2 linked regions of the Homo sapiens genome follow. The protein of the gene in region 2 purifies or fractionates together with the protein of the main gene of each other region. This does not show direct contact. Each region holds a gene or a part of one and is shown on either strand. Other genes may lie near its edges.

Region 1 (5,177 bases), on a different chromosome or scaffold from region 2:
GAAATAAAAATGCTTGCTTTTATAAAATCTCCAGTCTCGCAGCACCCCCAATATAATACAAACAAACTTAAGTTGAAATTTGGTTTGTTAATGCCCACCTTGTGTGGTCAAAACACAGTTTTGAAGGAATGACCACCTTCAATGTTCTTTACAGCTTCTTTAGTGTTACTTAAAAAAAAAAAAAAAATCAATCTGATGGATGATTGATGGTAGTTTGTTCATGGAAGATCTTCATCTTATGGGAATTATCTAGTTTTTCTAATCATATACTACCAACAAAAATAAACACAAGCATGTTCCCTTTAATCATATTATCCTCCACCATTACTTCCAAAAGGCATTGGCTCACAGTATTCTGTTTAAGATTGTGGACCATTTATCCCAATGAACTCACTCAAACTTTATCTAAAACATATCATGACAGGCTGGTCCAACAGTCTGTTCAGTCTGAAAAAATGTTCTGTGCTCTGTTCAGATTGACAAAATGTTCTTTTTGGCCGGGCGCAGTGGCTCACGCCTGTAATCCCAGCACTTTGGGAGGCCGAGGCAGGTGAATCACTTGAGGTCAGGAGTTCAAGACCAGCCTGAGCAACATGGTGAAACCCCGTCTCGACTAAAAAAAAAACAAAATTAGCTGGGCATGGTGGCACATGCCTGTAATCCCAGCTACTTGGGAGGCTGAGACAGGAGACTTGCTTGAACCCAGGAGGTAGAGGTTGCAGTGAGCCGAGACTGCGCTACTGCACTCCAGCCTGGGCAACAAGAGTGAAACTCTGTCTCAAAAAAAAAAAAAAGTTCTTTTCTAAGAGCTTCCTGTATGTGTGGCTGCTCCCTAAAGTACTTTGTGCTCAGTTACAGCTTCCTGTCATCTCATTTACTTATACATAAATAGCTCAACTAAGTAACCCAACATATAAACTCTCACTAAACTCACATGTTGCATCTTAGAAAAGGTGATCTGGAAGCATTATGGACTATAGTGAGAATGTAAGGCTAACAGCAGTTCAAAGTAGGGATGACACAAAAACAAATAAATCATATTGACAGTCATTCCCTCTACTAAAAAAGAATAATACTTGTTATTCTAAAATGACCTCTTTTGATTAAAATTTCAGTTCATAAAACATTACAGTATGCTTCTTTATCAAAGTCTACATATCAGAAGAACATGAGCTCCACGTTCCTGTAAAACTTTAAACACATTTTTCTTCCTAATAGACATTAGCAGTTTTGTTGAAAAGAAAAATTGACATAACCTAGCATTATCTTTTGACTTTGCCCATGGAGAAACTTGGAGTTAAATTTACTACTTAATTTTAGAATCTGTCAGTGTTGATATGGTTCTATAAATTTTTAATTTTTTTAATTTAAATTTTTAAAATTTTTAATTCTTTAAAATTTAAAATTTTTAAATTGTCCTGTTTTACATGTAATATACTTGTAATATACATGTAATGTACTTGTACGTTATAACTGTAATATATTTCAAATACTTTTTGGAGGGTCTGATATAAATCTGATATAAATTAAAAATGACTGGCCTTGACCACAGCATAAGCAGATGTCTGATGAATGTGCTAACCACCCTTCTCCAATATACATCCATCCTAGAGGACAATAAAGTCTCACAGTCATGATTTCCAATATAACATATTTAGGTTTCAGACTGCTGGAATAATAGATTTCAGATTGCTGGAATCTAATAATCTGCCTTTGAAGATGACTGACACACACAAACACACACACACACACCCTGTTGTAGAAGTAATGTGCAACTCATGAGGTACTTTCCCTCATCCAAACAGATGACCAAGATTTTGAAGACTACCTTATTTCTCACTTAGTTAAAACTTTCAAGAAAAAATATTTAGAATGACTTAAAGACTCTTGTATAAATAACTACCTAAATACAGAACAAATTGGGAGGATGTGGGTCAAACACAGCTGAGCTCCACTCAGCTCAAATTAGATGAGTCTTTTGACTACAAAGCTCATTTTCTTAACATATGGGTTCCTGCACGACTTGATAAGATTTGCTGAGCACCACAGTAATCTTTTAAGACACTAATCAAAAACATGGTTCTACATTTTAAAAACCTCAGAAGTAGTTTTAGGACAACAGAAGCACCTCAACCACTAAAATAAGCAAGTTTCTATTATAAGTAAAATTACCACACAGCAAATCCCTTAACAGTTCAGCAACCAATAAATAGAAAATATTCATTAAAAGCTGCTATTTCTGATTGTTCCTTTGTATTCTTCGACTATAAGTGAAACATATGAAAAATAATTGGTTGTCAGAAAGCTTTTGACTACATGATATGCATCTTATGAAAGAATATGCATCTTATGAAAGAATATGAGCCAAGCATAGAAAACTTGGACCAGATGCACAGTATTTCTACTACCCTGGCCATGGGCTCCTCCTGAGTAGTGTCTAACAAGTGGGCAATTTCAGTAAGAATTTTACAGCCTAGCATAGTAACGATAACCAGTACATTCACTTCTTCTGGAATTAATACAAGAAAGACAACTGAAGATGTACTACAAAGACATAGGTCTAAAACTGCCACATTTGCCCAAGTAAACTAAAAGAACTCTTCCTAACCTATATCGAACACATCAGCAAAGACCAATGTTATACTGAAATGAGTATTATCAGATGTTATTATATGTAACCACCTTTAATATTTATCTATGTGCTACTAAACCCCCAAAAGATTAGACTTATGAGAGCATAATTAAAAAGCACATTCCTCCTCACTTTTTAAAGTTAAATATGGTCTCTTCTACTGAAGCAATTTATCTTTTTCTGGTTCCTAAAATAGGCATCAAATTTCTAAACAGAAGTAAAAAGCCTCAGCCAAAAAGCCACATATTAGGTATTCAGCCTGGTCTAAGAAAACTAAGTTAATAAATTGAATAAATTAAATCAAATAAATTAGGAGTGCACATTCAGAACAGAATTGTAGCCTTTGGTCAGCAACATGTGAACCAAAGGCAAAAATCTGCCATGATTAAGGCAGTTCTTTGTATACAGTACGATGTGTTTTTCTTCCCCGCCCCCCCAACCAAGTTCATTTAGCATTCTCTTTGTTATTAAAAATGCAGTGCCAAGCTAGAATACAAGCTTCCTAATAATAATAGTAAAAATAGATGGCATAGAAAGTTCCTTTTGGTTTAGAGTCTTCCTTAATACCTATTATGGTATCTTCTTTTTGCCTTCACACACTTGGTGTAAGAGATTACTGCAACAATCGTTTGACTTTGGCCACAAACCATGACTACTCTCAGGGCGAAAGCCGTTGGAAGGAATTATTTTCTTCTTCTGCTGGAGTCAATTTAAGTGTTGGCAGTTTCCGAGGAGGAAGCTGAGGGCTTTGGCGAAGATTGTCATCCATCTGTAGAAAGTACAAAAGATACATCTGACTAATGCTGTGGCACCGCTTATGTGGACTGTGGCCTCCCCATCCAAACTATAGCCTAGAAGAGTACAGAACCATATGTTTCCTGGGCTGCTAGAGAAACCTTTTTCTTACAAATAATCTCAAGAATTCTAAATGTCATACCTCAAATACCAGCTGACTCAGTTTCTGTAAAAAGCAACGTGGCTCATTCCTGATACCTTCACAGAATTATAGTTAATTCCACAAAATAAATATTCTACTGAACTCAACCATAACTTAAAGAGGTCTTCTGATAGTAAGTGTAAAAGCGGTACTGTTACACTAAGCTCCAGTTTGCAAACTATGTTCACGTACAGTATCTTATTTGATCTTCCCGATACGCTATGAAGAAAAGGCAGACACAGACCTTCTCTGTTGTACAGATGAGCAAAACGAGACTCTGTAAGGTTAAGTGATTTGCCCCACGTCACAAGCTAGTATGAGAGCTGAAACTTGAACCCAGGTCTTCTGATTCCAAAACTATTATTCTTTCAACTATACTTCTTTACCTCAATGAAAATGACCTGTATTCCAATCAAAAAAGACCAGCTTTTTAAAACTGAGAATATGTAGACCAAAGGAAGCTAGTACATTAGGCAAAAAGAAAGATAAATTCTTTAAATGTAATCCAGTGGTTTTCCAAACACTGGATCACTTCTAAATGAGGTAACCCACATCAAGCTCAAATAACACAGTGGTGGACCTCAAAAACTGTTAGCCAGTGTCATCAGGCCTCATTGCCCTATGAGTTTGTAAAATAGTAAGTATTACTATTTGTATCAGGAAAAAAAAAAAAAGCAAGCTTATCAGTTACAGGGGAAAAAATATGTAACCTCTTTGTATTTTTCCTAGTAGAATCACACTTGAAATTTCCTTTGTTGGTTCTCTCCCCTACCCAGTTCCTCAATGTTTCTCTCATGAAAAGAACACCCCAAGTGGCAAAATATCTACACTGGTGAAAAAACTATAAACTATATCTAGAGCAGAGAAGAACAAGAAGGAGAAAAAAATAAAACTTTCATGTGGAAAGAAGAAAAGAACACGGTGCTGTTAATAAGAAAGGATAAGCCCAGTGCTTACAATCTTAAGAAACATTAAGAGACAGAGAGGCAGACACACAAGCAAGAAGTGTTTTTGCTTTGTTTTTTTTTGTGTTTTTTCTGATGGAGTCTCGCTCCGTTGCCCAGGCTGGAGTGCAGTGGCACGATCTCAGCTCACTGCAAGCTCCGCCTCCCGGGTTCATGCCATTCTCCTGCCTCAGCCTCCTGAGTAGCTGGGACTACAGGCGCCCGCCACCATGCCCGGCTAATTTTTTGTATTTTTAGTAGAGACGGGGTTTCGCCGTATAAGCCAGGATGGTCTCGATCTCATGACCTCATGATCTGCCCGCCTCGGCCTCCCAAAGAGCTGGGATTACAGGAGTGACCCACCGCGCCCGGCCGCTTTGTTTTTTTAAAGCAAATCTTTTGGATTTCCTAGCTTAAAGGGTACTAACTGTGTGGCAAAAGTAAACCCAATACTCTTATCTGATCTTTCCCCAATCAGGCCACTGTTGGCTTCAAAACACTATGTTACATACAACTTTAGTGAAAGTATATTTAAACAGTTTTCTGAAAAACAAACTCTATAAAAAAAACTAAAAGGGTACAGTTAATGTGTGACCCAAATGACAATATTAGCTACCGAAAGGAAAATACTGAACTATGATAAAATGATTGAAGTAGACTTGAC
Region 2 (5,177 bases):
GTCTCTGAGGGAGGAAGAAAACAAAGAGCAGAGCTGCAGAAACCTCCAGAAGGGCTTTTGCTTCTAACAGGTCCCACCTCTACCCCAAATGGCCAAACCTTAAAAAAGGTTCTAGAAAGGAGGCAAGTTAATGCTCTTCCCAGGAACCCCAAAGAGCACAGAGGCAGCAACCGAACTGCCCCTCCCACACCTCCTCCCAAACCAGCTGTCTACAGGGAAATCTGCGCATTGGGATCAGAAGGCATGAACTGGGAGAGAGAGCCTAGCAACCTGCTTGCCCCCCGCCACCACGCACACAAACATACCAAAGCTCGTTGAGGAAAAGGAGATGCTGTGCTCCCAGACACATCCCACTGGACGCAGGACAAAGTCACAGGATCCAAGGCCTCAGGCAGGAGCACCACCCTAAGGACCTTCCACTCACCTGACTGCTTCTCCTTCCTCTTTCTCCTCCACACACAGAAGCAGGCAAGGGTGCCAAGGAACAGTGCGCTTAGAATCACGATGATCACCAAAAACGGCCAAAATCTGAATTCTGAGGAATACAGAAGGCGTGAGAACTGAGCTGTCAGCTCGCTCTCTTCTTCCTTCCCACCTGCCTGCTGCAGGGGCTGCCTCAAAACCCACTTTTCTCTGTGTTGTGGCTGATTGCCTCGTGCTCTGAGAACTCACGGTCAAGGTTTTCTCTTTGCTCATTTGGTTAACCTCCTCTGAGTGATGCCAAGAGCATAGATATATCAGACAGGCCTGGCTCAAATTCTAACCCTGTGAGCTCTGCACTATTTATTTAACCTCTCTGGGCCTCTCAAGTCATCTTATTTTTGGAAGATGCCTCAGAGCCTCTTAGATTTTCTCACCTGTAAAAGGGGATAACGTTATCTACCTATAGGGGTTAATTACATGATCTAATACAGTTGCCCTCCAAAGTTTTGAGTTCCACAATGTGGATTCAATGAATTGTGGATCCAGAATATTCAGGGAAAAAAAATGCATGTGTATTGAATATGTAGAGGCCTTTTTCCTTGTCATTATTCCCTAAACAATACAGTATAACAACTATTTAAATAGCATTTACATTGTATCAGGCATTATAACTAATTTAGAGGTGACTTAAGTAAGGTATACAGAAGGATGTGTGCATAGGTTATATGCAAAAACTGCACCTGTTTATGCCAGGGACTTAAACATTCGTGGATCTTGGCATCTGTGGTTGCGAGGTGGGTCCTGGAACTAATTCGTCATGGATACTGAGGGACATGTAGCACAACAAATGTTACATTTATCCATTCCTTTGTTTTTAACTCAAAAAATACTCATTGTACAGGCAAGTTTTCCGTCTCACTTTTCCACTATTCCTTCCTTCATGGCTCTTCCTCATTTGAACTTCTACTTAAAAGATTTGTGTCACACATGTAGCCTGATATATAATCCAGCCAACAAGAGGAAGGAAAAGGAATTAAGTGTTCCAAGGGCTGACAAGGCTCTTTGCAAACATTATCTCATTTACTCTTAACAGCAATCCTGTGAGGTACTTATTATCACCCCCATTTTACTCAAGGGGGGAAGAAAATTGAGGCTCAGAGAGGTTAATGAATCTGCCAGAGATCACAGAGCTTCTTTTTTTTTTTTTTTTAAATAGAGATGGGATTACACCATATTGTCCAGGCTGGTCTCAAACACCTGGACTCAAGTGATCCACCTGCCTCAGCCTCCCAAAGTGCTAGGATTACATGTGTGAGCCACCACACCTGACCTCTAAGAGATCACAGAGCTTCTGAATGATGAAGCCAGTGTCCTAGTTCAGTGGCATGATCTTGACTCACTGCAACCTCCGCCTCCTGGGTTCAAGCAATTCTCCTGCCTCAGCCTCCTGAGTAGCTGAGATTACAGGTGCCCGCCAACACGCCCAGCTAATTTTTTGTATTTTTAGTAGAGACAGGGTTTCACCATGTTGGCCAGGCTGGTCTCAAACTCCTGACCTTGTGATCCACCCACCTCAGCCTCCCAAAGTGCTGGGATTACAGGGAGCCACTGCGCCCGGCCTGCCTCAGTCTTGTTTCTTTTTTGTCCACAAGTAGTTATTTTTGTTGCCCCATTTGGCTATAAGTTCCTTATGAATGAGAGCTGTATGGTTTTTTTTTCCTATAATGCCCATGCTGCTGGTACATTAAGTCCCTGTTTATGTAATAAAAAGTTGTGGAACGGTAACTCAGGTAACTCTTAGGATGAGCATAAGCAACAGCCCAAGAACTCATCTAGGTATCCCTGGGGTCATCCTGATGCTCCTGCTCCAGGCTACTGCTGCACAGTGTAGTTACCTCTTGAACTATGTGGCTTGGAGAAAGTTATCACTCAAGAGGAGAGGACAGTTCTCCATCAGCCTCTCCCAGGAAGAAAATAATGTTCAGGAGCCATTTCAGGACTGTCACTCACCAAACAACTATGCCCTCCCTCTGCAGAAGAAAAGCTTGCATCTCCCAGAAGGAAATAGGGATAACATTTTTTTCCAGAGTAGGATAGGCCTAGCTTTACAGGAACTGTGTGCCTGGAGGCCAGGGCTACCCTGGGAAGGGCTACAAGGCACTGGGAGAGGAGGCCAAGGGATTTTATCTCATACCACATCTGTCTTGCACATGAGCCTGGTTGCGGGGTCCAAACCTTCAGCGCTTGTTATAGCCCAGTGTGTTCCACTTACCCTGATGGGCATTCTGACAGTCCTGAGTGAGATTCAGGGTGTGGCTTTCCCAGCTAACAGGATTGCTGACATTGCAGGTATATGTGTGAGTGCCATTAATGTCAACCTCCTCGTCCAGGTAGGTGAGGTTCCCTGCTGTCTGGATCAGCTTGCTCCCTCTGTACCAAGCATAGGACACATTGCCATCCCTGGAGACCAAGCAAGACAGAGCCACTTGGCATCTCCCTCTGTCCAGGATCTTCCCCTGCCCCTGTAGGCGGGGTTTCTCAACTTTATCTGGAAGCAGAGATTCTGATCAGAAAGGCATTGGAAATACAGAACTTAGAGGCCTATAGGAATCAGAGAGGGCAGTATGAACAGTCCTGGAGACTTACCAAATACAAAAACCTGGAACGTGGCTGTCTGAACTTTTCCAGATATACTGGTGACCTCCAGGCAGTAGAGGCCACTGTCCTGCTGCTGAGCTGCCTTGATGAGAAGACTCAAGTTCTTGACTATAAAACTGAATCTATCATTGGAAGTATTGGAAGGCAAAGAGCCATTCTCCCACTTCAATATGTGATGAAATCCATTTTGTGAGGGCAGCAACTTCTTCCATGCAATGCTGTCAACCTTCGTCTGTATGCTGTTTGGTTGTAACTGAAGAGGCACTCCCGAGATGCTAACCACATGGTCAGCTGATCCCTGGCATCCTAGGAAAGAGAACCCAAGCTGAAAGTAGCGGGAAGAGTGTCAGGCCTGAGCAATGTGGGCAGCTGGATGTGACTTCCCTTAAGCCAATTGGGTGGGGATGAGTATGAGGAGCCCAGAACCTAGGAGCACCTTAAAGCATATCCCCTCCATCTGCCTCCCCTTGTCCCCAAGCTCTGTGTCCCTAGTCTGAGGGATCCCATAGACCAATAGCTAAAATCTTGAGTACTTACTATGTGACAGGCAGGTTTCACACTTTATACATTTTAACTATTTAAGTTAAAAGGTATGATGAGTTAAAAGAATGATGAGCCTGAAACCTAGTCAGTTTGGTGTTATGTTTTTGTTTTCTTTTGTTTTGTTTTCTAGAGACAGGGTCTCACTCTGTCACCCAGGCTGGAGTGCAGTGGCGCAATCACAGCTCACTGCAGCCTTGAACTCCTGGGCTTGAGGTGATCCTCCCATCTCAACCTCCCTAGTAGCTGGGAGCACAGGTGCTAGGGAGCTTATTTGTTTACTCTTTGTAAAGACAGCAGTTTGGCTTGAGAGGATAAATTCTTAACCATGATGCTATAAATACCACATCTAAGGTGACTCCCTCCAAGCAGTGCTGAGGCAACTACTAATGGCAAGTAGTGACTGTTGGAAATTCTGAATGGTCAGGCCCAGGAAGACTAACCGTCCAAGCTGAACTCATGGCCCCTCAACCATCCTCTCACAGAGCTGAATACATAATCCTCTCTCGTGGCACTTGGTTCATTGGATTTTGGTCATTACTTATTGATGTTTGCCAGTTTTTCAGTGATCAGAAAGTCTCCACAAAAATTTCTCCCTAGAAAACAATTTTAAAAATAAAACTACACTTCCCAGGCAGATCCCAGCACTTGCCTCTCAAAGAATCAAGATGAAACCTAATGAATATGGGGGTGTGACAACCTAGAGCAATTCTGTGCAGTCAGTGTACAAAACTGGAAGTTCCTACAGCCATTTTTAGTAATAAAGCTATGTGGCATGGCCCAGCAGGTGCAGGAAATTAAAAAGTCTCTCTGGGTGAGTTGGGGAGGCTCAGGGAGGATTTGGAAGAGAAAATAAGAGATGGGGAGAGTTTTACAAGTGGCTCCGTTAAAATGGAGGCTATTAAGAAGAGAGCAATTGAGACAGAGGGGTTTTTATATGTCCAGTGCATTATGAATGCAGTCTCTCCAAGCCACAGCTTCACCCTGGCATTTTCTCAAGAGACTAAGTAAATAATTAAAGGACTTGTAATACTATTTGTTTGATGAAATATGTTTCTTTGATCTTGATGCTCCTAAGACTAAAACACATAGGTTCCCATTTATATTTATATGACTTGTACTGGCTCTGCCCATTAGCAAACCAAAAGCTTCTCAAAAGCAGAGACTGTGCTGTGCATCTCTGTGTCTCTGTCTCCTACGATCCTAGCACTATTTATAAGAACAAGTCAACCTACCAAATATTGCACAAAGACCCTGAGAACAAAGGTGAATGGAAAAAATCATTACTAAACCTACAAGGAGGACATATACTGTCTTCATCAATTATTCAGTCCTTACTGAGTCCCACTGCAATCCAGCCCCTGAAGAGGCAGGGCCTCTTCATGTATAAGGCATGATTCCTGACTCCAGAGAGTTTGTGATCTGGAAACAGAACACTTTCATTCTACAGCATCCCCTTAATTGTTGAGATAAAAAATCATCGAAGGAATTCTAATTATGTAATGAAAATCCAGGTTAAGACATGCTAACCAATCCTCCCACTAAAAATAGCTAGA

Evidence for each region. Proteins that work in one complex are often made in the same cells at the same time.
Region 1: the proteins of CD244 (region 2) and MTX3 purify together in Homo sapiens (affinity purification with mass spectrometry; 3 studies listed by BioGRID and IntAct, with this or other methods). This does not show direct contact.

What each region holds. Positions count from the first base shown.
Region 1 is NC_000005.10:79,980,394-79,985,570, forward strand, and holds part of MTX3 (metaxin-3), read right to left. Parts: intron 3,402-5,177; coding exon 3,291-3,401; 3' UTR 1-3,290.
Region 2 is NC_000001.11:160,838,515-160,843,691, forward strand, and holds part of CD244 (natural killer cell receptor 2B4 isoform 1 precursor), read right to left. Parts: intron 3,388-5,177; coding exon 3,070-3,387; intron 2,987-3,069; coding exon of another isoform or gene 2,972-2,986; coding exon 2,696-2,971; intron 536-2,695; coding exon 425-535; intron 5-424; coding exon 1-4. UniProt on the Homo sapiens protein: Heterophilic receptor of the signaling lymphocytic activation molecule (SLAM) family; its ligand is CD48.